Linked DNA regions of Homo sapiens. The protein of the gene in region 4 purifies or fractionates together with the protein of the main gene of each other region. This does not show direct contact. Each region holds a gene or a part of one and is shown on either strand. Other genes may lie near its edges. The genes, in order: CEP135, OBI1, QRICH1 and WRAP73.

Region 1 (8,825 bases), on a different chromosome or scaffold from region 4:
CAGTATTCAGTATAGTAACATGCTATACAGGTTTGTAGCCTAGGAGCCATAGGATACAGACCATATAGCCTAGGTTTGTGGTAGGCGACACCATCTAGGTTTGTGTAAGCACACCCTATGATGTTGGTACAACGAAAAAATCACCTAATGATGACATGTTTCTCAGAACGTATCCCTGTCATGAAACTATCCATGACTGTATTTGAAGACCAGTGAAGCAGACATAGAACTTAAGGGGGGGAAAAAAAAAGAACTTAAGGGAAAAGTGTCTCTCAATTATATCAGAAACCCAAAAAACTGTAATTCCATTCACAGAGAAAACCCCCAGAAATGTTGACTTTGAACAGTACAGCGTGAGTGGTGGCCTTTAGAGTTCTGCCGTGTGGAAGGCCTGGATTGAGGACAGGGAAAAAACAGATAAGCTTCATGATTGAAAGCCTTTCCGGAAAGCTACCCTTTTCTTTACCAAAGCATGAAGTTCAATCAGAAATGAGGTAAGTGGTTAGGGATCATAAAGGTTGAAAACTGTATTTTTGTCTTTACCTGAAAAGTTTTTCTACCAAAGGTAAACACTCCACTGTCAGAGTCTGGCGGTATCCCAGCTGATCCAGCCTTTTCCTAATATTAATATACTTTCTCTCTACAGCTGTAGTCATCTCGTCTTCTAAAACAAGTTTTATTCACTTCCAAAAATTAAAGTCCTGAGAGAAAAGAATGAAACATCATTATCTTATTATAGCTATGATTGTTGTTTCACAATAAGAAGAAAAAATTATTTTAATATGAAGCAATTATTTTTTGTTTTTCTTCAGGTAGGTAGCCTTCTGGAAAATTCAGATTTAAAGCCAATGCTTATGATATTCCTGTTACTGCATTAAAATAAATACTTCCTCATACAACTAAATGTAAAAGTTAAAATCCTAAAGCTTCTAGGAGAAAACAAAGATTTTTCCTAAGCCTGAAGTAGGCAGAGACTTCTCAGAGAGGCCTCTTTTAAAAGCACTAAACATAAAAGATAAATTTGATAAATTGGACTTCATCAAAATTTAAAATGTCTGCTCATCAAAATACTCAATTAAAATAGAGAAGGCAAACCAAAGAGTGGGAGAAAATATTCACAATATCTGACAAAGGATTTGTATAGGGAATATAAAAGGAATTCTTACAACTCAATAATAAGACAAACATCCCAATAAGAACATTAATTTGGGCTAAAACTGTAATTTAGTTGCGCTAAAGATTCGAACAGACACCTCGCATAGGTGTCTGAATGGGAATGATGATATGAAATGGTGCTCAACAGTAGTCAACATGGAAATACAAATTAAAACAACAAGGTACATTTTCTCCCAAACTAGAATGACTAAAATTACAAGGACCGACAATAGCAAATGTCGACAAAGATCTGGAGCAACTGGAATCTTCACACATTGCTGACAGGAATGTAAAATCACTTTGGAAAAAGTCTGGCAGTTTTTTTATAAAGTTAAACATACTTCTGGACTATAACCCTGTGATTTTATTCCCAGGTATTTATAGAAATAAAAAATATTCACAAAAATACTCTACAAGAATGTTCACAGCTTTACTCATAGTAGCCCCAAACTGGAAACAACCTAAACCCCCATCAACAGCAGAAGGGGTAAAGTATGATATATTTATACAGTGCAATACTAAGGGATAAAAGGAACTACTGATACACATCAACAGCATGGATGAATCTCAAAAACATTATTTGAGCAAAAGAAACCAGACAAATACTGTATGACTCCATTTACATGAAGTTGATGAACAAGTAAAATTAAAACTATGGGGCCAGAAATTAAAACAAGAGTTGTCTGGGGAGGTGAGGCGGGCTGCAGATTGCCCGTTAAGAGTTAAGACACAACTTTTTAGGGTAATGAAAATATTACATTGATTGGGGTAGTGGTTACACAAGTGTATACATTTAGAGAATTTACTTTTCAAATAGTACACTTAAACTCTATGCATTTCATCATGTAAATTTCACTTCAATTAAAAAAAAAGACACACATAAGTACCTCTGTTCAAGTTTTTATCTTTGTCTTTTTAAATATTTATGAATATATTCCTATCAATCTGCCCTAAAATGGAGTTATCCAAAGAGCATTTCTTTTTTTTTTTTATTTTAATTGTTACCTTTTTTAGAGACAGGGTCTTGCTATGTGGCCCAGGCTGGTCTCCAACTCCTGAGCTCAAGGTATTCTCCCACCTCTACCTCCCAAAGTGCTAGGTTTACAGGTGTGAGCCAATATGCTCAGCCCAAAGATCATTTCTTTAGAAACTCTGCTCTTTTCTAACCTTTGCTAACTAACTGTAGTCATGGTACTCGTATTTCTAAGCCAAATAAAAATTTTGTTTTACATCTGTTGTTCTTCACAATATATAAAAAATGCATTACATGCATGAGCATACATGTAAAAGTCGATCCTCACAGCTACCCTGTGAGGGAGAAAGACCAATGATATTATCCCTACTTAAACATGAGGAAAGGCTGCCTCAAGAAAGTAACTCTTCCAAAACCACGGGGCCACAAAGTAGGTGGGCAGTCATCAGAGACCAGGTCTCCTGAGTCTCTCCTTGGTCACTCCTTTCTGTATATCTTTCTCTTTGCTCTTGTTAACTTTTTTTGAATGGCTTCCTCATAGATTTCCTAGGTTCTTTCCACAAGAGACACCTAAGTGATGCAGGGTTTTTAGGGAAATTCCTGCAGACATCAGAAATACACCTGACAAATCCAGGTGTATTACTAGCAGGGTGTAAACTTACAGGCGGTGCACCACTCAAAACATTTCCCCTCTTTGCTACCAACTCCAGTTACCCAGAGATAATACCTCCTCACATCCTGCTTTGGAGGGGAGAGAATGAGAATGAATATGAATCAATAAATCATGGCCAGGGCCTCAATACACAGGACGGATTAAAATCCTCCCAGATAGAAACATGTTAGGCCGTCCCCACCCATGAACTGTTGTCTTTCCCCATAACCCCCATCCAAATATGGTGGCTATACTCTAAGTTTCTAGCAAAGCAACATAAAAGGTTAGGTTTGGGGGTCCCCCATACATATATGTGTAGAAGTATCCATCTACTTAACTCTGGGGGTTGGCGTCTCAAAACCAGTACATTTAATGCTGTATGTATGTGTGCACAGGGCTTAAGAAGATAAACAAGAAACCCCAAACGACAACAAAGAAACCCGTTAGCTGTGGTTATCTCAGAGTCCTTTCTTATTGAACTCAAAGTAGTAAAGGCTGGAAAGCAGTGGAGAGGCTTCAAAGGAGCTGGGCAAAGGTTAATTAAAGGCTGTCGTCCTACGCTTTGCGACATTTTTGTTACAAAGAGCATGGATGACTGCTACACTGAGAAGGCATTTTAATGTTTAAATCTATCCATTGGTCAACAGCAAGCCTGTCTGCACGGCCCACACAGACGCTCCTTGACGAGTCGGCCCAAGCTCTCCTCCACCCAATCTCCGGTTTGCAACTTTACCGTCGGGTGTTGACGGGAAGGGGGTGTGGGAGCGGGGTGGGTGGGAAGAGTCCCCGCGCCCCTCCCCGCCCGGTCTGACCCGGCCTGGCCTCACTTCCTCCCGCGGCCGCGCGGCCTCCCGGCAGTGCCCGAGCCCGGCCCGCGGGTACCGCCCAGAAGGCGAAGGCGCCACCACCGCCGCAGCTGGCCCTCTGGCTCCCACATCCGGACTCACCGGCAGCTCCAGCCGCCGTTGCCTCCGCCTCCAGCCGCATTGCCCTCAGGCCTCGAGTCCCCCACTAGCTCCTTCCGTCCAGGCACGGGCTCCGGCGCTAGAGCAGTTTGAAAATGGCGCGGAGGGACGATCGGGGCCGACACGGAGGAGGCGCCGCGGTTGCCCCGGTAACGGGAGCGGCGGACGATTAGCGGCTCGCGGCGGGGACGCGCTTGGCGACGATGGCGGAGCCCCAGTGCCCGGAAATGCAACGGCCCGGACAGCGCGAGGCCACGGCGCCCCCTGGAGGTCGGCGCCCGCGGCCAGCAAATGCCAAACCTCAGCTGGTGCCTGAGCTGGCATCCTCTTCCTCCTGTCGGCGGGAGGTGTGGATCACCTACTGCGTGCGGGGAACAAACGCCGCCCCAGTACCGGTCCCTGCAGCGGAGTAGCCTTCACCTGCAAGGTGAACGCCTGCTCACCACGTAATCCCCAAACGCAGATATCACGTTGTCTCTGCAACTTTCCCTGACAACCACCCAATGCAATTAATTATCCCACAATAGTATCTCCCGCAGGCTCTCTGTAGAACCATAGAATTCATCCATCAAAATACAATCATTTGTTGATCCGTCTCTCTCTGCCGCCCCCAAATGTGAATTCCTTGAGTCAGAGACTATTCTACTCAGCAAAACATTTGTGAGTGGAATTAAATTGAAATAAACCGTTATAGTCCACTCACAGATGGAAAACACATAGTAAAATCCTAGAATTCCATTTCTCCCCTGAAAATTTCCCAGACAGTCAGAGGGAGTTTCATTCTTTCCTGTTTACTTTTCTCCCAAATAGGCCTTCTGAGGCAGCAGAATAGGGAAGGAAGTCAGAAGACTGACCAGCTCATACCTATGGAATGCCTATCATACATACACTTAAAATTATGGCAAGCTCACGCAGGCGCACTAAGAGAGAAAAAACAAGAAAACAGATATGACAATTATAGGAAATCCCCTCCCTAGAGTTAAAGAAGTGTAGGAAGTGGGTATAAAAGAACAAAGGCTATATTAATCCAGGGCTGACACCACTTGAAGATAAGCCCGTTCCTCTCTCTGGTATATTCTTTGCTTAATAAATCTTGTGGGGTGGTTATTTGTGTGTCTCATCCAATTCTTTGTTCATAACACCAAGAACCTGGAACTCCCAACTTCCAATCTGGTAACATATTTTGGTGAGCCAGCCAGGAGGTAAGCCCAGAAGAACTGGGACTTTTTATTTTCTTTCTTTTTTGCTTCAGCTCTTTCACTTTGGTTTAAAGCTGCCTTCTGCTGGCACGGATTGGGCAGTTAAGAACGAAAAAGGCACTGGCCGCTTGAAGACTCCCATTGTTGCGGGAAAGCAGAGGACCAGAAAGACCAATGGGTGGAGCAGGAGGATTTTATTAAGGTGTGCACTGGCTCCGTGGATTTGCATCCAAAAAGCTGAGCCCTGAACAAAGACAGAGCTTGGCTTATATAGGCTAAATTAAAAAAGCAGAACCAAGGCAGTAAATCACACAGTGACAGGTTTTGTAATCTATAGCATAACTGCTGAAATTTGCATAACTTTTGGCTTTGCTTAGCTGGTGGCCTTGCAGCTGCGTCAAAAGAAAAACAGGAACCTACAAATCTTTCTAAACATAGGCAAAAATAATCATAATTAATGGTCTAAGGAAAGAGAAACAGTAAAGGAATTTGTTTTTCTTAACCATTGCTCAGGGGTGTTTGGAGCTCATTCCTGGCTTCTTAGACTAGGTCACCATGACCTTCCTATAGCCTTGCTTGTTACTATCCTTAGAGTGAGTAAATGCAGTACAAAACTTTCTTTAAATTCCTGCCTCAACGTGACAGGATAACCTGATTGGGGAATGGAACAGATGGGTCCCACGGGGTACAAGATCAATCCCTGCAACAGTGAGGTGCATGTTTGTGTGGCTATAATTATTACATTATTTGCTGCTTGTTTTTTTGTTTTTGTTTTTGTTTTTGTTTTTGTTTTTGTTTTGAGATGGAGTCTTGCTCTGTCACCCAGGCTGGAGTGCAGTGGCATGATCTCGGCTCACTGCAACCTTCACCTCCCGGGATCAAGCAATTCTCCTGCCTCAGCCTCCTGAGTAGCTGGGATTACAGGCACCCACCACCATGCCCGGCTAATTTTTGTATTTTTAGTAGAGACAGAGTTTCACCATGTTGGCCAGGGTGGTCTCGAACTCCTGACCTCAGGTGATCCGCCCACCTCGGCCTCCCGAAGTCCTGGTATTACAGGCATGAGCCACCATGCCCAGCCAGCCACCGTGCCCAGCCTTGCTGCTTGTTTTATTTTTTTTTTCTTTTCTTCATTTGTGTTGGGATATCATGTTTTGACCAATTAGAGATCTCCCCCCAACCCAAAGGGCCAGGACAACAGGTAACTGACTGTGGGGAGCCCAAGGATTAGCATCAGCCTGAAGATTAGGGCCAACCACCTGGATAATGAGAGTACCCTGCTTCTTCTGTGAGGGATCAGATCTAGATTGTTTTAGTTTAGTACATCTGGTGCTAAAAGAAAACTCCTGGTGGAGACTCTCGGATCATTGCATAAATTGCACAGTGGATCCATGGGGAAATTACTGTGCCTGGTTTATCTCATATAGTCAGAGGGCACTCTACTATCTTATTGAGAGGCCAGTCTCTAATAACAAATTTAAACTAGGCAGTCTGCAATTCCTTGCCCTTCAAACTAGAGTTACTACAATAATTAAGGAAACCATTTGGGAAGAAACTCTTTTGGCCAGCTACAGGGATACTAGAAGCCAAAGGTTACACCCAGGAACTAAAGGGAAACTTATCATAGGTCACCAATTATGGCAGGATCCTTCTTCAAATGGCACTGGTGCCCACTATGGCTAGAGACGTCTGGCACTCAGAGGACAGGTCCATTTGGGGGATGCCCAAATGGACCAAAATTACAGTCCAGATCCTTCAATAGGGGACACCCTTAAGGGAGACTCTAGATGTAAACTCATGAACCTATGAGACTCCTTTCATGCGCGTCCATGTGAAGAGACCACCAAACAGGTTTTGTGTGAGCAATAAGGCTGTTTATTTCACCTGGGTGCAGGCAGGCTGAGTCTGAAAAGAGAGTCAGCGAAAGGAGATAGGGGTGGGGCAGTTTTATAGGATTTGGGTAGGTAAAGGAAAATTACAGTCAAAGGGGTTATTCTGTGGTGGGCAGGAGTGGGGGTCGCAAGGTGCTCAGTGGGGGAGCTTTTTGAGCCAGGATGAGCCAGGAAAAGGACTTTCACAAGGTAATGTCATCACTTAAGACAAGGACTGGCCATTTTCACTTCTTTTGTGGTGGAATGTCATCAGTTAAGGCGGGGCAGGGTATTTTCACTTCTTTTGTGATTCTTCAGTTACTTTGGGCCATCTGGGCATATATGTGCAAGTCACAGGGGATTCAATGGCTTGGCTTGGGCTCAGAGGCCTGACAACTCCCTTCTTCTTTTCCACAGATTAGTGTTGGGAAACATTCCTTCAGTCCTATCTGACTCCCCTCTTGGCTGCATCTTCAATCATTGGAATCAATTTGACCCTGAAAACCTGTGAAAGAAATGCCTAATATTTTATTGTAACACCTTTTGGCCTCAATTTCAGCTAGGGAGTCAAGAGCAATGGCCAGTCAATGGAAGTCTCAATTATGACACCATCCTCCAATTAGAACTATTTTGTAAGAGACAAGGCAAATGGTCAGAAATACCATATGTGCAAGCCTTCATGGCCCTATACCAAAAGCCTACCATTTTCAAAGCTCCCAGCACTTCTCCACAGAAAGAAACTCCTAAAACTGAGCCGAATACTGTAGATAACCCCCTCTTGCAAGGGGTACATATGTGTCAGGGTGAACAATAGCCACCTTCCTATAATCCAGGTCCAAGTGCACTTGAAGCTTCAAAAGAAGGACAAGAGTCACGGGTCCTAGCGATCCCTCCCCATACTAGCTTAGGAACACCATATTCAATGACACCACCTGTCCTGCTACCTCTCAGAGAGGTGGCAGGAACTGAGGGTCCCATCAGGGTACAGGTCTCCTTCTTAATAACTGATATCCAACAATGTAAGGAAAAACTGGGCAGTTACTCAGAAATTTGCTGTTGGGTTCCAGACTTTGACTTTGGCTTTCAACCTTTCTTGGAGAGACATGCAATTCATTTTGGCCACCTGTTGCACACCTCTGGAAAAGGAATGAATATTTGAGGCTGCTCGCCAGGACACTGATGAACATTTTGCATGTAGCCTGCAGGGCAACAGATCGGGAGCAGATACAGTCCCTACTACTGAACCCATTTGGAAATATAATACCCCCATGAGAATGAATAATCAAACTAAATTTCTTGAGGCACCCCTGAGGGGAATGAAAAAAGGTGTAACAAAGGGAGTAAACTATGATAAGTTTAAGGAGATTACTCAGGGGAAAGAAGAGAATCCAACCATGTTTTACAGTAGACTAGAAGAAGCCTTTAAAATATATACAAACTTAGATCCTGCTTCTCCTGAAGGCAAGATATTAATGGCACAACATTTCATTAGTCACTCTACCCCAGACATTAGACATAAGCTCCAGAAGCTGCAAAGGGGGCCATAGACAAAACCAGTTCCTTGACACCATCTTTATGGTGTACAACAATCATGAACTGGAGGAAGGAAAAGGGGAACAGAGTAAAAAAAAACCCAGCAAGCCAGAATTATGGCAGCCATCATTAGTGATGCCTTGAATGCCCAAAGAGCATCCAAGGGAAACACAAAGGGCTACAAAGATAACGCTAGCAAAGACTCTTGCTTCAAGTGCAAAAAAAGATAGGCATTGGGCAAAGGACCATACTAAGCCTGCACTGGGCCCTTGCCATCAATGTGAAGGCACCAGTCATGACCGTTGGCACTGGCCAGTTGACTGCCCCTGCTCCCACCGAGGGGCTTGGTCAGTCAAAACTCTGGCAGTGTAAAAGGAGGAGTTAGATGAAGACTGAAGTGGCCTGGAGTCTTCCTCACTGTCCCTGTCCAGGAAAATCATCATTACTATTGAGGAGCCCCAGGTAACTCTGGACATC
Region 2 (8,273 bases), on a different chromosome or scaffold from region 4:
TAGCATGAATTTATTTGTAAAAATAGCATCACCATGTCCAATCATCCTGTTCATTCACCTTTAGACAATAATTAGGAAACAGCATGTTTCACACTAAAATCTCTGTGCTGGCAGTTGACATAAGGTATAGTATTTACTTTACTAGAATTGATCAGGCTTATAATCATCAGTAACTTCATAGGCAGAAGCAACTGATGACTGCAGAGGTCAGACTGGCTTTCACAAGGAGATTTCCTTTTTCTCCCAACTTCTTGAGGAAGCAAATACAAAATGATATGTCTGTGGAGGTACAAATTTTAACTTAAAAAAAAAAAAAAAAGAAAGAAATGCTTCCATCTGTTCCTTTTTTCTGGAATCCCATTCCCCCATTCCTTGGTACTTAAAGAAAAAAAATAAAACAAAAAATCTCTTTCCTCTATTTAAAATACGAAAGGAAAAAAGAAAAAAGAATTTATCAAACAATTTCTTTTTATAGGCTTTTAAAATAAAATTTCATTGGATATTTACTCTAAGAAGTCTGGGGACTGAGGTAGGTCAGTTTTTACCTTGAATTCACTGCTAACATAATTTTAAACTTTGATTACTGTTTACCTCATATTCTTTGTGTAGTAATTCAAGTCTAGTTTTCCGAAGATGCTTCCTGACCGTATGGCTTAGCATAGGTTCACTTTCACTTGTTCCTCCTGTAGGGAAAAAAAAAAAAATCCTAATTTTTCATTCTGATTCGGGAAGAATGAAAATGATCCTTTTTCATATTGTTTTATATAGCTTCCCAGCTTCACATCTACCCTTCCCCTTACATACACACTTGGGGCTTACATCTAGGCCTTTTCTCTACCCTAATCTTGAGGAAAAAAAAATATATCAAATAACACCATAAGAAATACCTTCAGTAACACATCATATTGTATTTACATATCTACATATCTTATCACAGCAAACTCAGTGGAGGAAAGGGCTGTAATTATCACATTTGGACTACTTCAAATTCTGAAAACTAGACTATATTTAAATAATAAAACCAATTATTACATTTACATTTAACCAAGAGATTATATAAAAATGTATTACTGGCTGGGTGCAGTGGCTCACGCCTGTAATCCCAGCACTTTGGGAGGCCGAGGCGGGCGGATCACGAGGCCAGGAGATAGAGACCATCCTGGCTACAGTGAAACCCTGTCTCTACTAAAAATGCAAACAAACAAAATTAGCCGGGCGTGGTGGCTGGCGCCTGTAGTCCCAGCTACTCAGGAGGCTAAGGCAGGAGAATGGCATGAACCCGGGAGGCGGAGCTTGCAGTGAGCCGAGATTGCGCCACTGCACTCCAGCCTGGGCGACAAAGCGAGACTCCGTCTCAAAAAAAAAAAAAGTATTACTGCTATATACCTATGTATATAGATTAATGTGTCTTTTCACGGATTCTAACAGGCTAGTTACAATGGACTGTAAGTCATGGCATTAACTCTATGTCATGACTTGTTACAAATGCACTCACAATGAATTCTTCCTGAGAGCTCTTCACTGATGCTCTGGTTACCTTCTTTGTATTTTTTAGCATTATAATAATAGCAAAGGTATTTTACAGGTGTTCTTTTTCAGGATGTTCTATCCAAATGCAAAAATGGATGAACTATTTTCCTTGAGAGAATTTATGAAATATCACTTAGGTATGAATGAATAAAGGTAGGATATGGGATGAGAAGAAAAGCTGGGGGAAAATATTCAAATCATCAAAGCTCATATTCTGCAAGAAAAGACTTGACTCCTTGGTGAAATTCAGCAGGTAAAAAAAAACAGATAGAGGTTAACCCCGTAGCATGCAACACAGCAGAGAACCAGTCCTCTACCAGACTTCACCCAGGTACCAAGAGCCAACTCTGATTGCGCCTTCAGATCTCTTATTTCCTAAGTCCTACTAGTTCTTCTTTTGCTCTGTAGCATATATATTCCTTTCTATTTCCTTTGTAAAAATCTTGGCTGGGCACGGTGGCTCACGCCTGTAATTCCCAGCACTTTGGGAGGCCAAGGCGGGCAGATCACCTGAGGTCGGGAGTTCGAGACCAGCCTGACCAACATGGAGAAACCCCGTCTCTAATAAAAATACAAAATTAGCCGGGCGTGGTGATGCATGCATATAATCCCAGCTACTTAGGAGGCTGAGGGAGGAGAATCGCTTGAACCCAGGAGGCAGAGGTTGCGGTGAGCCGAGAACGCGCCACTGCACTCCAGCCTGGGTAACAAGAGCGAAACTCTGTCTCAAAAAAAAAAAATCTTATTTAAGTCCATTTTCCCTAACTTGGGACTATTACAATGACTTCTTAAGTTTTCTGAAAAATGTTTTCTATACTTGGCTAATTGTAGATTCACTTTCAATTTTTCCTATAGCAAAAACAAGTAGAAATCATTTTAATTTTTGCAACCTAAAATAAATAACTTATATGAGTAGAATAAAAACCAAACTCTAAAAAGGCTCTTTAGAAGTTCTCCTTTTCAAGGATCCTCTAGTTCAAGCTTTACTCCTCCCCCACCCCACCAATATTAATGTGACATAGAATTTGTTTTCACCCTTAATCCAAACTTACATTTTCTATCACCTAGGCAAAAGCCTCCTACCAGACCTACTCACATCCTGTCTACTCCTATAGTCCAACCTATGTATTACCACAAGTAATATTTGTAAAGCACATTTTGGATCATACCACTCCCTTGCTCAAAACCATCATGCCCAATTCACCCTTCTTCTTAGTCCTAGAGCAAGTCCCTGATTTAGCTGTCATTCAAGGTTCTCTGCACTAAAGTCTCAATTTACCTTTTGTCTTATCTCAGTAGTCGGACCCAAAGTAGACTACTGATCATTTCTAAAAACATGCTCTGGGTTTTCCTGTATCTAAACTTTTTAGTTCATGCTATTCTCCCTGCAGGAAATGCCCTCCTTAATTTTCACCGTTGAAATGTTATCCATCCTTAAATTTAAATGTCCAGCTTAAAGGCCACCTACTTTATGAAGCCCTTCTCGGTGTTCTTAGCTGAAGTTTCTTGCCTGAACTCTCTGGGCTTTTTTGGGGCCCTTAGCACTTGCTGCTTTTCTTTTGGTTCAGTTGCTATGAAAATGTAAGTTCCGTGAGGCTCTCAGGGTTATTCCTCTTAGCACCTCTCAGTGCCTTGTGCCCCAGTTGCTCCACATATACATTACACAAATTACTCAACCACTCAGTATTATGTTGGCCAAATAGCATCACTGAAAATAGCCTATTTCAGTCTTCCTCGAAATATAAATTATTTGGAGATTGTTTCAAACCTATTCCTATGCATATATAAAACAGGCCCTTACCTATAATTTCTTTGCAAGGATTTTCAGGAGTGATGGGGACTCTGCAAGCTGGACACTGGCTATTATTCTTCAACCACAAATCAATACAAATCGAACAAAATACATGGTTGTTGATGCATATGACAGGCTGACGTACCTTTGAAAAAAGAAATCACTTTTAGTACAGGACAACGGTCATAATTAGAAGATCAAATGGTTTAGTTTACAGCAAACTGCTTCTCTAGATTATAGCAGAGTAGGAGTTTAAGAAGGGATATCTAGCGCTTTTAAAAACACTGCTTCTGTTGGTCACTTTTCTTTTTACACATGTTTAACAGAGATACTAGATGAGATACTGGATCATGGAGACTGAAGCTTTTGACATATAAAATGCTTTATTTTGTACCTAAACCACAGAATTCATGCCAAAAAGAAAATGCTTTTTGTTCCACTAAGGCTGGGACAATTTTGCTCAAACTCTTCTATTTTAGCATTATAGAACAGCAGGATTAGGTTTTTGAAAATATCATTTAGCACAATCATCCATCTGATGCCCGAATCCTTTTCTCAATTCATTCCACTGTTACAGAATAACAGCAACTATTAAATATTGTATTGATACTTTACTAGAAATTCCCCAAAACCAAACAGTAATGAAAGCTAAAACAACCCAAAAGGCATGAGCTTCACTCTCAAGTAGTTTATAATCTAAACAGCAAACAATGCAGACAGAATTACTGAGATACACCAAATACACAAATCTTTGACTCCAGGCTCCATTTAAACAAGCACAAATAATAATACCTTACATTTATAGCATTTTTTTTTGAGACGGAGTCTCGCTCTGTTACCCAGGCTGGAGTACAGTGGCACCATCTAGGCTCACTGCAACCTCTGCCTCCTGGGTTCAAGCAATTCTCCTGTCTCAGCCTCCCGAGTAGCTGGGACTACAGGCGCCTGCCACCACGCCAGCTCATTTTTCTATTTTTAGGAGAGACGGGGTTTCACCACATTGGTCAGGCTGGTCTCAAACTCTTGACCTCAGGTGATCTGCCCACCTCGGCCTCCCAAAGTGCTGGGATTACAGGCGTGAGCCACCGCGCCTGGCCTGTAGTCATATTTTACAAACGGCTTTCACATGCATCTTTCACCGCCCCAACCCTTTTCCATCTCTTTTTTTAAAAATACCACAACTTGGTGAGGTAAACTGGGTAAATATGCTTTACAAATAAGAAAACAAAGGCATGAAGAAATTAGGTAGCTTGCTCAGGGTTAACTGGGTGTGTTGACTGTTTGTAGTTGTTTTATCAGGAGGAAGAAAGAAAAGAGAAGCTGCTTTGGTTTTCTCCACAGCATTTATATTACCTGATATTATACTCGTGTTTACATATTTATTGTCTATCTCCCTTATCAGAATGGAAACTCCATGAGAGCAAGAACTTCTTTACTCTCATTCATAACTAAACCTTTAGTGCCTAGAAGATAGCTTGGTACTTAGCAGGTACTCAACAAAGGTCTGTTGAATGATTAACTGCTATTAAGATAGTGTTAACATTCAACTAGTTGGGAAAGTTGTCAGAAGGAAATAATGATTTAATATTTTTTGAAATAGCACAAATTTAAAAATACAAACAAAAACAGCACAGAAAAATGTAGTCTTATCACTTGATTTACATGGTCTCTTCACGGTGGGACTCAAAACATTTCATAGCCATTTTCAATATTTCCCTAATAGTAATTACAGTATAGAACCCTTCTGCACTAGGAACTGGAAGACTAGGTCAAGGGAAAGCAGAGTAAGTAGAGGGAGAATGAAGAGGCAGAACCACCACAAACCACTTTTCTCGGAGAAAATGCTTGTGCTACTCTATGTCTGCCTTAAAAGAATCTACTGAGTATTCATTAATTTAAAAGGGGCCCCCACCTCTCAAAGAATTAATAGATGCATAGCTATTCATGACTGTAGGGAAAAGAAAGAGAGATCAGACTGTTACTGTGTCTATGTAGAAAAGGAAGACATAAGAAACTCCATTTTGACCTGTACCCTGAACAATTGCTTTGCCCTGAGCTGTTAATCTGTAACTTTGCCCCAATCCTGTGCTCACAGAAACATGTGTTGCATGGAATCAAGATTTAAGGGATCTAGGGCTGTGCAGGATGTGCCTTGTTAATAAAATGTTTACAGGCAGTATGCTTGATAAAAGTCATCACTATTCTCCATTCTGGAGTAACCAGGGGCACAATGCACGGCGGAAAGCCGCAGGGACCTCTGCACAGGAAAGCCGGGTATTGTCCAAGGTTTCTCCCTATGTGATAGCCTGAGATATGGCCTCATGAGATGGAAAAGATCTGACCGTCCCCCAGCCTGACACCCGTGAACGGTCTGTGCTGAGGAGGATTAGTAAAAGGGGAAGGCCCCTTGCAGTTGAGATAAGAGGAAGGCCTGTCTCCTGCCTGCCCCGGGAATGGAATGTCTTGGTATAAAACCCTACTGTACATTTGTTCAGTTCTGAAATAGGAGAAAAACCGCCCTGTGGCGGGAGGCGAGACATGTTGGCAGCAATGCTGCTCTGTTACTCTTTACCCCAATGAGATGTTTGGGTGGAGAGAAGCATAAATCTGGCCTACGTGCACATCCGGGCACAGTACCTTCCCTTGAACTTATTTGTGACACAGATTCCTTTGCTCACATGTTTTCTTGCTGACCTTCTCCCCACTATCACCCTGCTCTCCTACTACATTCCTCTTGCTGAGATAGTAAAACAGTAATCAATAAATACTGAGGGAACTCAGAGACCAGTGCCGGTGCAGGTCCTCCATATGCTGAGCACCAGTCTCCTGGGCCCACTGTTCTTTATACTTTGTCTCTGTGTCTTATTTCTTTTCTCAGTCTCTCGTCCTACCTGATGAGAAATACCCACAGGTGTGGAGGGGCTGGCCCCCTTCAATGATGGGCAGGTAATCATTTGAGTCTCGTTACAAAGAGCTCTGGTCTCAGTCTGGCTTTCTGAACATTCTGGTTCTCCCTTGATTATGAACACTAACCCAAGAAAACTAAACAAAGATAATCTGGAATAGATTTAAACTTCTTGGAGAAACTTAATTCTAAGCATTCATTTCAACTGGTTTGACAGATTCATTAAAAAAAAAAATAATGAACCATAGTGTTTCAAAGTCTTCTTCCAAAGTGGTCCTACCAGCAGCCAGGAGTGAACGCTTATCTATAAAGTATTCCTGGTCAGAGTCTCAAATGGCAGACAAACCTGAACTTTCTTTGCAGGTTCTATTTTTTTTCTTAAAAATTCATGTGATTTGCAAGTCCAGACCATAATATATTCATATATGTTTTAATTTCATCTTTATGTCATGAAATCTTTTAAGAGCACAAAAATCCCAAACCAAGAAGATACTGCCTTATCTATCCTGTAACTTCCCCCAAACACACACACACACACACACACACACACACACAGACACACACACCCCTGCAATATTCCTAGAAGTACTATATGCCCCAAAATTAGGAAGCTCAGGTAAAAAAGGAAGTTATCTACTGTTATCTACTTTTATAGTAAGTTATTTTTTATAAGTTATAAACTCATCTGAAAATGGATAAAAGCCAATGCTCAAGACATAAAAGTGTGCACATTATATGAGAGGATTCAAGATGCTCTGCCAATCTTTCCATAAAAAAAAACACATTTAAAAGCAAAGCGTGCACATTATATGAGAGGATTCAAGATGCTCTGCCAATCTTTCCATAAAAAAAACACATTTAAAAGCAATCAGTAGGTCGGGCACGGTGGCTCACTCCTGTAATTCCAGCACTTTGGGAGGCCGAGGCGGGCTGATCACCTGAGGTCAGGAGTTTGAGACCAGCCTGGCCAACATGGAGAAACCCCATCTCTACTAAAAATACAAAATTAGCAGGTCTTAGTGGCGTGTGCCTGTAATCCCAGCTACTTGGGAGGCTGAGGCAGGAGAATCACTTGAACCCGGGAGGCAGAGGTTGCGGCGAGCTGAGATCGCACCATTGCACTCCAGCCTGGGCAACAAGAGCAAAATGCCATCTCAAAAAAAAAAAAAAAGAATCAGTATTTTTCATGTATTTGCTCCCACAACAAAGGTTAAATATTATCTCCCCAATCTATGAAATGGTTTTGAGCAACTCAGTAGTTGGTGTTATCATATACTGAAGTGGCAAAGACAAGAAAAGCAGATTTCGCACAAGGTAAAAATCAAGAATTCTGTTTTAGCCATGCTAAATTTGTGATGCTAAGCCCATTTTTAAGTGGACAAGTTCAACAAGGCAGGTTTTGAGTCACTGCCATAAAAGACATGAGCATATAAGGCCATAGGACTGGAGGAGATCTCATGAATGGACAAAACAGCTGGAGAAAAGAAGGCACTCCAGCAAGCAAAGGAAGAGGAAGAGCAACCAGCAGAGGAAACTGACAAGGAGGGGTCCTGTGATGTAGGAAAGGAGAATATGATATCACAGAAGTCAAGGCAAGAAAGTTTTTCAAGAGAGAGGCAGCGGCCAGATAAGTAAAATATTGATGTGAGATTGAGTTTGATGTGCACTGAGATGTGACTATGGGATTTAACTGCTTGGAAGTCACTCTGATCAGTTACCGACAAGCACTGTTTCAGCGAATGTTGGGGATGGAAACCTGACTGGAGGTTGAGAGACAATGAAAGATGAAGAAGTGAAGACAGAAAATACAGACAATTCTTTCATGTTTTGCTGTAAAGGAGAGAGCATAAAAATGAGACGACGGTTAGGAATACCAATGGGAATGATAAAGAGAGGATATTAGTGATGGATGAAGAGTGATGGGGGTATTACAGCGATAGGCAACAAAGTCCCTAAGAAGTCAAGAGGGGAAAGGGATCCAAAGCACAAAAGGAGATTTTGGCACATACAGGAGTGAGGGTTTGTCTTCTTTTGCAACAGAAGGGA
Region 3 (8,273 bases), on a different chromosome or scaffold from region 4:
GGGGGTCTCACTTTGTTGACCAGGCTGGTCCCAAACTCCTGGGCTCAACTGATCTTCCCACCTCGGTCTCCCAAAGTGCTAGGATTATGGGTGTGAGCCACTGCAACCAGCTGCTACTCCTTTTTTTTTTTCTGAGACGGAGTCTCACTCTGTCACTCAGGCTGGAGTGGAGTGGCGTGGTCTCAGCTCACTGCAACCTCTGCCTCCCTGGTTCAAGCAATTCTCCTGCCTCAGCTTCCCGAGTAGCTGGGACTACAGGCACATGCCACCACGTCCAGCTAATTTTTTGTATTTAGTAGAGACGGGGTTTCACAGTGTTAGCCAGGATGGTCTCGATCTCCTGATATCATGATCTACCTGCCTCAGCCTCCCAAAGCTCTGGGATTATCTGGGATTACAGGTGTGAACCACAGCTCCCAGCCAATTTTTTGTATTTTTAGTAGAGACAACGTTTTATGTGTTGGCCAGGCTGGTGTCGGACTCCTGGTCTCAAGTGATCCACCTGCCTTGGTCTCCCAAAGTGCTGGGATTACAGGCGTGAGCCACCGCGCCCAGACTGTGTTTTTTTTTTTTTTTGGGCGGGGGGGCGGGGGTGGCACGGGGCAGACTCTTGCTCTTGTCGCCCAGGCTGGAGTGCAGTGGCACGATCTCAGCTCACTGCAAGCTCTGCCTCCCAGGTTCATGCCATTCTCCTGCCTCAGCCTCCCGAGTAGCTGGGACTGCAGGCACCCACCACCACAACCGGCTAATTTTTTTGTATTTTTTAGTAGAGACGGGGTTTCACCGTGTTAGCCAGGATGGTCTCGATCTCCCGACCTTGTGATCCACATGCCTCGGCCTCCCAAAGTGCTGGAATTATAGGCATGAACCACTGCACCCAGCCAAAGACACACAGGAATCTTAAAGGCATATTGCTAAATGAAAGGAACAAATCTGAAAAGGCCACATGCCGAATTATTCCAACTATATGACATTCTGGAAAAGGCAAAACTGTGAAGATAGTAAAAACATCAGTGGTTTTCAGGGTATCTGGGGGAGGGAGGGATAAACAGGTGAAAAGGTTTGTTTTTTTTTTTGAGACGGAGTCGCGCTCTGTCACCAGGCTGGAATGCAGTGGCGCAATCTTGGCTCACCACAACCTCCGACTCCCTGGTTCAAGCGATTCTCCTACCTCAGCCTCCCGTGTAGCTGGGATTACAGGTACCTGCCAACACACCTGGCTAATTTTTGTATTTTTAGTAGAGATGGGGTTTCACCATGTTAGCCAGGCTGGTCTTGAACTCCCAATATTCAGTGATCAGCCCATCTCTGCCTCCCAAAGTGCTGGGATTACAGGTGTGAGCCACCATGCCTGGCCCAGAAGAGGTATTTTTTAGGGCAGTAAACATTCTATATGACACCATGATGGTGACACATGTCATCATACATTCATCAAAACTCAGAATGTACAACAGATACAGAATGTAAACCAGAACGTACAACACAATAATATAGTTCATAGCACTATGAACTATAGTTAACAATAATGTATCAATATTGGTTTATCAATTATAACAAATGTACCATACTAACGCAACATGTTATTGATAGGAGAAACTGTGTGTGAGGGTATATACTTAAGGAGTTATATGGAAATTCTCTGTACTTACTGCTAAATTTTTCTGGAAACCTAAAAGTACTCTAAAACATAAAGTCTATTGGCTGGCCGTGGTGGCTCATGCCTGTAATCCCAGCATTTGGGAGGCCGAGGTGGGCGGATCACCTGAGGTCAGGAGTTCGAGACCACCATGACCAATATGATGAAACCCTGTCTCTAGTAAAAATACAAAAATTAGCCAGGCGTGGTGGCATGCTCCTGTAATCCCAGCTACTTGGGAGGCTGGGATAGGAGAATCACTTGAATCTGGGAGGTGGATGCTGCAGTGAGCCAAGATCACACCATTGCACTCCAGCCTGGGCAACAAGAGCAAAACTCTGTCTCAAAAAAAAAAAAAAAAAAAAAAAAAAAGTCTATTAAAAACAAAAATAGGCCAGGCACGGTGGTGGCTCACGCCTGTAATCCCAGCACTTTGGGAGGCCGAGGTGGGCAGATCACAAAGTCAGGAGTTTGAGACCAGCCTGGCCAATGTGGCAAAAGCCTGTCTCTACTAAAAATACAAAAATTAGCAGGGCATGATGGCACATGCCTGTAATCCCAGCTGCTCAGGAGGCTGAGGTAGGAGAATTGCCTGAATTGGGACCTGGGAGGCGGAGGCTGCAGTGAGCCAAGATCGTGCCACTGCACTCCACCCTGGGCTATAGAGTGAGACTCCGTTTCAAACAAAACAAAACAAAACAAAAATAGCTGAGCACAGTAGCGCATGCCTATAGCTCCAGCTACTCAGGAGGCTGAGGTAGGAGGATCGCTTGAGTTCAGGAGTTTGAGGCCCATCTCAGCAACATACCAAGACCATGTTTTTTTAAGAACAAACAAAGAAAAACACTGAATAACCTATGCTTTTGTTCCAATAGAACATGCTGTCCAGAAGGCTGCCTGTGAGTAAAGCAAAAATTATGCTCTACAGATAAAACTGTCCATAATCCTTAATTGTTATGATTCTAATTTTAATCAATACATTTTAATAGGAAAAAAAAGATAGTAACTACCCCACTAGTTCTGCTTGTTCCTGTGTCCTTCCCACACTGGAACCAGCAGGCTTCTCTGGTGAGCAGTGCCTCTTCCCTATCAGGGCAAGTAGCACAGTGGCCAATGCTGCTGCAGTCTGGGATTTATATCCCCCCTCACTCACATGCTTTTCATAGCCAACCACAGAAGCTATTGATCTTTCTTAAATCCAGGTAGGAAAGATATCCAAGGACAAGGGAGACTCTTACCAAGTGGAGTGACCCGGGGCTGAACATCCTTCAGAACTTCATGTAGCCACTCCGTGAACCGAACATAATAAAGATCGGAGAAAATGTCATCTACCCTTCCATTTTCAAAAAGATACTAAAAGAAAAACAATTAATAGAAGTTATTGGTAGTCTCCTGAACAAGGATTTCAGGGGAAATAAATATATTTTTCTACCAGTACTACTATCCTTCCCTACCCATTCACACCTCAACAAACCAAGGCACCAGCATGTGACACTTCCATAGTATGCCTAAGCTCATGTGACTGATTCTCATGACATTCTTGAGAGTTGGGTAAATAAGGCAGATGTTGTGAATGCTATTTCACCCAAGAAAGGCATTATTTTGTGTTAGCAAAAATCATGAATAGGCTCTGGGGTCAGCCTTCCATTAGATATTGTATAAGTTAAACAACATGTGCAAGTCTTTTAATTTCTGAGACTCAGTTTCCTTGCCTGTAAATGGAGATGATGGTATCTGCCTTCCAGGACTGGGAGAGCAAAGAATGAAAGCATGTAAAGCAATTCACATAGTACTTAGGTTAGGACCACCAAGAGAGGAAAAAACTAGGAGGCAGACATTTCTCAAGACTAGGCAACAGAATAAGTCCCAACCAGTAAGCCCTATTCTATTATACTGTGGGTTTCTCCTCAAGAGCCTTCAAACACTAAGAAATCCACCTCTGCTCCCTTGAACTGCCAGTCTGCAAATTTCTGTTATGCTTCACCACAGATGTCCTGAAAACCTAACTACATTGGTATATTATTCTAGCTAGACTCCTTCAAATAAGTAGTTAGTGCAGGGAACAATGAGAAGAAAACCTCTATGCTGGCACAAGACTCTGTTTTGAATAAATTACCTTCATGAAAATCAGGTTTAACAAAAAGAAAAGTGTTACATAAATGCTTTGTGAATTACAAAAAAAAAAAAAAAAAAAAAAAGTCAAGGTAATTACCAATAATGTAATAGAAGTTTAGGTAGTAGGATGAATAATGTTTGTTTTCCTATTTTATTATTTATTTTATGTATTTATTTTTTAAGAGGCAAGGTCTTGCTTTGTAGACCAGATTGAAGTGTGATGGCACAATCATAGCTGAATGCAGCCTCGCACTCCTGAGCTCAAGGGATCCTCCTGCCTCAGCCTCCCAAATAGCTGGGACTACAGGTGTGTGCCACCACACCCAGCTAATTTTTTTTCTTTTCGTTTTTCAGACAGGGTCTCACTCTGTCACCCAGGCTGGAGTGTAGTGACATAATCATGACTCACTACAGCCCCAACCTCTGGGGCTCAAGCAATCCTCCCACCTCAGCCTCCCAAGTAGCTGGGACTACAGGCATGCATTACCATACCCAGCTAATTTTTTGTAGAGATGGGGTTTCACTATGTTGCCTAGGCTGGTCTCAAACTCCTGGGGCTCAAGCGATCCTCCTGCCTTGAGCCTCCCAAAGTGCTGGGATTACAGGTGTGAGACATCTTGCCTGGCTCTTATTTTTTTTCTTTTCTTTTCTTTTTTTTTTAATTTTTGAGACAGAGTCTCGCTCTGTCACCCAGACTGGAGTAAAATGCTGTGATCTCAGCTCATTGCAACCTCTACCTCCCGGGTTCAAGCGATTCTCATGCCTCAGCCTCCCAAATAGCAGGGATTATAGGCAGTGCACCACCACACCTGGCAAATTTTTCTATTTTTAGTGGATGGGGTTTCACCATGTTGGCTGGGCTGGTCGTCTTCAACTCCTGACCTCAAGTGATCCACCTGCCTCGGCCTCCCAAAGCGCTGGGATTACAGGCGTGAGCCACCAGCGCCCGGCCCCGGCTGTTATTTTCTAAAGTGAACGTGTAGGTTTTTAAAACTTAAAAAAAAAAAAAAAACAACAAATGTGTATTTTAAAACTCACTGTATACCTGAAAGAGAACTTCCTTATTTTAACTTCTTGCTTATCAATTTATTAACTAAACTAGCAAACATCCAATAGGAACACAGCTCAAACATGTTCTTGTGAAGATCTGTTTCCTACCTTTTGAATACACAGGAAAATATAGTAGAGCACATCTGGGTCATAGGGTTCACCTTCTCCATTTCGAGCTTCCCGTGTCATTAGACAGAGCCCATAATTCAACTCTGCCACAGCAGAGGAGATGAGATCTTCCTGGAATCGCAGCAGTTGGCGCCCTGCAACGGAAGCCTCAAAAATGAATGAAGGTCCTGGGGGTCCATATCTGGAAGGCTCAGAACAGATACTGCCCATCAGGGTGCTGGGATAGAAATGCTCACTTGTATCTACTAGAATGTTTCATGCCTGTAATGTCAGAACTGGCCTATAACATGAGTATATGAGCCTAATGCCAAGAAAGAAGGGCTTGAGTGCCTATCCCTGGTTCCCATTTCCTCCCAGAAGCCACTCTGCTTAGGTCTGGTAGGGTCAACTCCTGAAACCCGTATGTCTAAAAATGCCTGGTTTTGGGCAAACCCCACATATCCTGCTTATTATGTACACAAGGTCAGTACTGCTTGTTACTAGGCTTGAATTCAACATACTATTACAGATGTTGCTCTCTTGTCCCCAAGACAGGAGACACCACTTTTCTGGCATTTTGTCCTCCTGTTACTTTAGTACCATTGCATTTTAGACACAGCCCACTCTTCTTCCAAGACACTCACTCCCAATGGGTGCCAATCTGTTCTGAGCATCCTTCTCTAGTTCAGCATTCTTGGTCTGGGCCCAGTTTTTCCATACTTCAAGCCCTTCTTCTGGCTTCAAAGAATTTGGAAGCAGAAGTTCTGGGGAAGGCTGTGGCTGTGACTGTGGTTCAACTTCAGCAACCTGGACAGTTTGAGCCTATAGGAGAGAAACCATGAAAATGTGTCAATATTGTTTTATATTAGATCCTTCTGCAAAATTGCCAGAAAAATGTTATGTATAGTTCATTTATTTAAGAAAATATTTCTCTACTCATTGCTGTCCTACTTTTAAGAAGCTTTGGAGTTCTACCTCTTGCCCCAGGGACAGCAAAAGCAGCACTGCAACTGGGCTAGTGCAGTGCTTCTCAGCCTTGGCTGCACTTTTAAATGTTTTTTTTTTTTTTTTTTTTTGAGACGGAGTTTTCCTCTTGTTGCTCAGGCTGGAGTGCAATGGCGCAATCTCAGCTCACTGCACCCTCCGCCTCCCGGGTTCAAGTGAGTCTCCTGTCTCAGCCTCCCGAGTACCTGGGTTTACAGGCATGCACCAACACGGCCAGCTAATTTTATAATTTTAGTCGAGACGGAGTTTCGCCATGTTGGTCAGGCTGGTCTTGAACTCCCAACCTCAGGTAATCTGCCCGCCTCAGTCTCCCAAAGTGCTGGGATTACAGGCGTGAACCACTGTGCCCGGTCAAATCTTTTATTTAAAAACACTAATAGCCAGACTTACCCCAGAATCTCTCTGAGGGGGAGCCAAGGTATCAATTGTTTAAAAACTCCTTGAGTAAGATTGCACCACTGCACTCCAGCCTGGTGATAGAGCGAGACTCTGTCTCGAAAAAAGAAAAAAGAAAAAACAAAACAAAACAAAAAAACTCCTCAAGTAAAAAAGTAATTCTAATGTTTGGTCACCACTGAGAACTACTGGCTCAAAGCACTGCTCCCACAGTCTTTAATGTGCAAACAAATCACTTGGGGATTTTATCAAAATGCATATTCTGATTGAAAAGGGTAGGAACTGAGACAACATTTCTTTCTTTCTTTTTTTTTTTTTTGGCGGGGAAAGAGTTTCGCTCTTGTTCTTGGATGCTGGAGTGCAATGGCAGGATCTCGGCTCACCTCAACCTCTGTCTCCCGGGTTCAAGCTATTCTCCTGCCTCAGCCTCCCAAGTAGCTAGGATTACAGGCATGTGCCACCACGCCCGGCTAATTTTGTATTTTTAGTAGAGATGGGGTTTCTCCATGTTGGTCAGGCTGGTCTTGACTCCCATCTTCAGGTGATCCGCCCTCCTCAGCCTCCCAAAGTGCTGGGACTACAGGCTTGGGCCATCGGCCGAGAGCACTGATTCTTAAACTGGGTCTCACCTTGAAATCATCTGGATTGCTTTAAAAAAAAAAAAAAAAAAAAACCCACCCTGGCCGGGTGCAGTGGCTCACACCTGTAGTCCCAGCACTTTGGGAGGCCGAGGTGGGTGGATCACGAGGTCAAGAGACTGAGACCATCCTGGCTAACACGGTGAAACCCCATCTCTACTAAAATACAAAAAAATCAGCCGGGTGTGGTGGCGGGCGCCTGTAGTCCCAGCTACTCAGGAGGCTGAGGCAGGAGAATGGCATGAATCCAGGAGGCGGAGCTTGCAGTGAGCCGAGATCGCACCACTGTACTCCAGCCTGGGTAACAGAGTGAGACTCTGTTCACAAAAAAAAAAACCAAAAAAAAAAAAAAAGAAAGAAACCTCACACTTGGGCCTTATCTCCAGCCATTGTAAGGTAGAGGCACATTGTCAGTATTTTTAAAAGCTTCCCATGTGATTTTTTTTTTTTCCCTCTGAGATGGAGTCTTGCTCTTTCGCCTAGGCTGGAGTGCAGTGGCACGATCTCGGCTCACTGCAACCTTCACCTCCCAGGTTCAAACGATTCTCCTTTCTCAGCCTCCCGAGTAGCTAGGATTACAGATATGCACCACCATGCCCAACTAATTTTTGTAGTTTTCGTAGAGACGGCTGTTATTGAACCATCTTGCTGGCTGGTATCGAACTCCTGACCTCGACTGATCTGCCCGCCTTGGCCTCCCAAAGTGCTGGGATTACAGGCATGAGCCACTGTGCCTGGCCTTCCCAGGTGATTTTAATGTCCAGCCACAGTTGAGCCATCATTTAAAGAAAAAAAAAGTGGTGAAACCCCATCTCTACTAAAAATAGAAAAATTAGCCAGGCATAGTGGCTCATGCCTGTAATCTCAGCTACTTGGGAGGCTGCAGCATAAGAATCACTTGAACCCAGGAGACGGAGGTTACAGTGAGCTGAGACAGTGCCACTGCACTCCAGCCTGGGTGACACAGAAAGATTCTGGCTCAAAAAATAAAAATAAAAAAGTGAATGTTTGAATAATGTTAAAATATTTCCAACTTTTTAAAATTCTTTTTTTGAGCAAAGTCTTGCTCTACCACCCAGGCTGGAGAGCAGTGGCATGATCTTGGCTCACCACAACCTCCGCCTCCCAGGTTCAAGGCATTCTCCTGCCTCAGCCTCCCGAGTAGCTGGGATTACAGGTGTCTGCCATCATGCCCGGCTAATTTTTGTATTTTTAGTAGAGACGGGGTTTCACCATGTTGGCCAGGCTGGTCTCAAACTCCCGACCTCAGGTGATCCGTCTGCCTTGGCCTCCCAAAGTGCTGGGATTACAGGCGTGAGCCACCA
Region 4 (4,107 bases):
TAAAACAAGGAACCGTATCAGGCCAGCATGGTGGCTCATGCCTGTAATCCCAGCATTTTGGGAGGCTCAGGCAGACAAATCGCTCTAGCTCAGAAGTTGCAGAGCAGCCTGGGCAACATGGTGAAACCCGTCTCTACCAAACAGACAAAAAGCAGCCAGGCGTGGTGGCACATCTGTGGTCCCAGCTACTTGAGAGGCTGAGCCAGGAGGATCGCTTGAGCCCAGGAGGCGGAGGTTGCAGTGAGCTGAGATGGCACCACTTATTGCACTCCAGCCCGGGCGACAGAGCGAGACTCCATCTACCAGATCCTTATGACGCAGCTGATGCCTGCCTTGGTTCCTACCACTCTGGTGTAGACAGAGGACTTTGTCCAAGTCTCACACTAAACATGCCCGGGCTTCGATGTGCCTGGAGGATTTCCCCACAGGGACCCACGCACCTCCCTGTATCTGCGCAGCTTGCTCGTGTGGCTGGAAGCGCTGTCGATAAGCTTCACGCACTGGCTTGCCAGTTCTTCAGCTCTAGGACTTGTAGCTTTAAGCAAACGGTGTGGCATGGGTTGAGTGTGGCCACCTGCAGGATGTGCAGGGCTGCCTCAGAAGCTGGCTGGGGACTCTAGCCTCTGTGTTCATAAAGACATTAAGAAGTGGATGGATGTTGTTCCTTTTTTGAAGTTGTCATTAAAGTAGGTGCAACAACCAAGAAAGTGTCTCTTCCCTCTTTGAAAGCCTGCCCCATCTCTGCCGGCTCTGCACCTGTGGGCCTGTTCTGCCTGTACCATGCGGACTGCCTGTCACAGCAGTGCCGAGTATGGTTCTCTGCAGAAAGAGATCACGATATGCAACAACCTAGGTTTGCAACCCTGATCCCCCCACCTGTGGTGCCAACCAAGTCTGGCTGCCTGCCGAGCACCAGCTGGAGAGATTGATGGAATGGTTCTGGGTGGTTCTAGGCACTTCCTGCAAATAGCCAGGGTGGAGACCCACGCACACTGGTTCCGAAACCAGAGTAGACATGAGACTTCCTGAGGAACTGACTCAGCTGGTCGGGGACCTGCAGCTCCCATCCCGAGGGGACTGGACCTGGGGGTGGCGCTGCTCTCAGGTGCCAGGGCTCCCTGCCCACACTTCAGACCCACTGTGGGGAGGCTGGATGTGCCCCACAGAGATGCCCCCTCGTTGTCCTAACACATCCAAACAGAGAACCCAGAGCAGGCCGGGTGTCTGGCGGGAGCTAGTGGCCCGGGGCTCAGTTACTGTAGGGCTATCCATCTTCCCTAAGACTGACCAGAACCTCGAACCTAGAAAACCTGCCTGTGACTAAACGTTTCAAGAAGAGAAGTAGTTGTATAAATCAGCAAGTATTTATTTTAAATAATAAAACTACAGTTTTATACCATACATATTTACAAAAATGCTTTGCTATAGAAAAATAGAATCAATCACTGAATCCAGACCACCACAGTGGAGAACCTCCTGGTGAAGCTGTGTTTTTTCCCACACTGGAAACACAGAGTAGCCCTGTTTCTGCACACGTTAGTGCACCGCTGCTACGTGTGGCCGCCCAGCTGTCTGCAGGCTGTGCCGACCACTGCCTCTGTCTCCAGGAAGCAGAGGCAGAAGTGATCCTTGCTGAGGAGGGCCATCGAGTCTCCGCTTAAATGCCAGCACAGAGAGAGCACTGCAAAGTCGCCTAGAGAGAGACAGGTGGCCAGAGGATTACAGCAGGGGAGGCCCAGATTCTGGGGGATGGGCACCCCCTTGTCCTGCAGGCCAGCACAGTGCCTGGAGTGACCCACATAGGCAGAGCCAGGGTGGAGCCCCAGAGCTGCCTCAAGTCAGGGAGAGGCTGCTTCTAGCCCATAAAGCTGAGGGCAGCGGGTCCCCTGTGTGTCCGTCTTGAGGTTTACGCAAAGACTCTGAGGGCAGTTTCCCTGGAGTGCTGCCGGAGACAGCAGCTGGGCTTCAACAGTTCAGCCCGTGTGATGCCAGACTGCACACAGCAAGGCTGCCACGTCCGTGGCCTCGGGGATGTGCTTACCTTCCCCAGGCACCTGCACCGACATGCAGCCCGCTGGGGACCACAGGTAGAGCCTGCTGCCTCCCGTGCAGATGGCCAGCCGCGGCTGCTGCGGGTCCCACTGAAATGCGCGCACTGGGGACAGCTGCTCGAGCACCGCGAACAGCCTCAGCTTCTGAATGTCCCAGACCCAGACGGCATTGGGAATGTTGTCTGAGGAAGGAAGGACAGGGCACCGGTGTCATCCCTGCCTGGCTCCTCTGTGTTGGCCCTGCCCCTCTGCTCTGCTGTTGACACCACAGGAGGGGAGGGGAAGAACCGGTGGGGTGGGGCGGCTGCACCCTGCAGTCTGGGTTCAGTTGGGCCCTGTAGGGCTCCTGGCCAGGGCCAGGGTGGCCATCACGGGCTGTAAGGGGCCCAAATGTGTTTCTTTCTTTGGTATTTTTTTTTTTTTTTTAGCCCTTTACAAATGGAGAAACCCTTAACAAAAGGCGGGCTGCAGTGTGCCCAGCCCTGCTTTCTACTCAGCAGAGTGGAGCAAGTGAGCAGGGTGGAGGCCTCCTGACTCATGCGCGGACCTGCGGCTGCTGCAGGACAAAGGCCCAGCGCCTCCAAGGAGCTTCTGTGAGCACCTCGGCTACTGCAGAAACGTGAAAGGAGGTGACGTGTCGGAAACCCCCAACTTCATTTTCTTTTCCAGTCGCTTCTACACCTGGGGCCACAGGACACAGTAAAGGGTGAGACAGCACCTGCGTCAGCACAACTGACCGTTCCTTGTCGCCAGGAAGTAGCTGTCAGGACTAAATGCCAGCATTCCTATGCCGATTTTCGGGTTTGCTCTGTCGGTAACAGGTTTCAGTGTCTGTAAGGAGACTGGGACAGAGGCGATCTCATCTAGAACACCAACAGGAAGAACACGCCATTGTCACCCTTTCGGGAAGTACGCACGCGGCTGAGAGGCTGCTGTGCCTGCATCGGGCATCGCGAACCCAGCTCCTCTGTTCAAAGGGGAGGAAAGTGCGGCCCAAGGGCAGGAAGAGCTAAGCAAAGCCTGGCAGCCGCAGCGAGGGGCCTGCCCGCAAGTGCCCCGGATGAGAGTGGCACCATCACCTGCCAGGCCCGACTAGGTGGGGGGTGGACCCCACGTGCCAGGGGCTGACTGGAGAGGGACATGGACAGGTCCTAGCTGCAATCTCAGCAGCTCCAACTCCTCAGCACTTTTCTGTCGACTACCAGCATCTGAGTTCACAATCCCTTCCACCTCAGCGTCAGTACCCTTAGACTTTCCGGCTGTGGAAGAACCATCATCACAGCAGAAGCAGGGGCTGTGGAACAAGGACGCCCCTGGGCTCCTGGGGAGCGCCTCCTGTGTGCCAGGCTGCACCTGTCCTGACCCCCATCCTGAGCACACACCGAGCCCCGGGGTGGGCCCGTCGGCACTTGGGGCACCGCTTCCTCTACCTGCAACCTTCAGATGCCCTCATGCCCCTGTGGGATGGGTGCTTTTACTATGCCCATTTCAGCGATGAGGAAACAGACACATAGGAAATGCCCAGAGTCAAGAGGCTGCATCAGAACCGGGCCTCAAGCCGGAGACAGCGCTCGGGAGCACCGCCGGGTTCCAGACCCACTCTGAGCGCCACCCACGGAAAAGTGTTTCTTTGAAAAACATCATTCTCGGAGCTCCGGAAAAACATCCCCTCGGAGCTCCCGCTGTCAGATCCGGGTCTCCAGGGCTCATATTCAGTAACAGAAGCCGCACCTTCACGGCCCACTGCGCAATTCAGACCCTAGTCAACCTCCAGCCAACAGGCTGAGGGGCACACTGGCTGGAAGCATGGAAGGGAAAAAAAGTTTTTTTTTTTAAACATAAGGAACATCCGAAGTTTATCTGGACAACGAGGAATCTTGCATTAAAAAAGGAAAACAAATGACATCACATGTGCTACTTACATTTACTCTCTGAGCTCGGGAGAGGGCCGGCCCCGGCCCGGGGCGGCGGGAAGGAGAGGCAGCCCAGTCCCAGCTGTGGGCTCTTCTCGGCCTCCTTATACACCACCTGAAAGACACAAGGTGGCCACGCCCGG

The links.
Region 1: the proteins of WRAP73 (region 4) and CEP135 purify together in Homo sapiens (co-immunoprecipitation; 8 studies listed by BioGRID and IntAct, with this or other methods). This does not show direct contact.
Region 2: the proteins of WRAP73 (region 4) and OBI1 purify together in Homo sapiens (affinity purification with mass spectrometry; 5 studies listed by BioGRID and IntAct, with this or other methods). This does not show direct contact.
Region 3: the proteins of WRAP73 (region 4) and QRICH1 purify together in Homo sapiens (affinity purification with mass spectrometry; 4 studies listed by BioGRID and IntAct, with this or other methods). This does not show direct contact.

Annotation. Positions count from the first base shown.
Region 1 is NC_000004.12:55,943,962-55,952,786, reverse strand, and holds the start of CEP135 (centrosomal protein of 135 kDa), read right to left. Parts: upstream 3,843-8,825; 5' UTR 3,728-3,842; intron 702-3,727; 5' UTR 657-701; coding exon 544-656; intron 397-543; exon of another isoform or gene 316-396; intron 1-315. UniProt on the Homo sapiens protein: Centrosomal microtubule-binding protein involved in centriole biogenesis. Acts as a scaffolding protein during early centriole biogenesis.
Region 2 is NC_000013.11:78,641,531-78,649,803, forward strand, and holds part of OBI1 (ORC ubiquitin ligase 1), read right to left. Parts: intron 3,468-8,273; coding exon 3,332-3,467; intron 2,023-3,331; exon of another isoform or gene 1,496-2,022; intron 684-1,495; coding exon 592-683; intron 1-591. UniProt on the Homo sapiens protein: E3 ubiquitin ligase essential for DNA replication origin activation during S phase.
Region 3 is NC_000003.12:49,041,516-49,049,788, forward strand, and holds part of QRICH1 (transcriptional regulator QRICH1), read right to left. Parts: intron 5,732-8,273; coding exon 5,554-5,731; intron 5,065-5,553; coding exon 4,910-5,064; intron 2,990-4,909; coding exon 2,875-2,989; intron 1-2,874. UniProt on the Homo sapiens protein: Transcriptional regulator that acts as a mediator of the integrated stress response (ISR) through transcriptional control of protein homeostasis under conditions of ER stress.
Region 4 is NC_000001.11:3,629,425-3,633,531, forward strand, and holds the end of WRAP73 (WD repeat-containing protein WRAP73), read right to left. Parts: intron 4,080-4,107; coding exon 3,974-4,079; intron 2,915-3,973; coding exon 2,789-2,914; intron 2,733-2,788; coding exon of another isoform or gene 2,599-2,732; intron 2,234-2,598; coding exon 2,042-2,233; exon of another isoform or gene 1,694-2,041; coding exon 1,551-1,693; 3' UTR 1,346-1,550; downstream 1-1,345.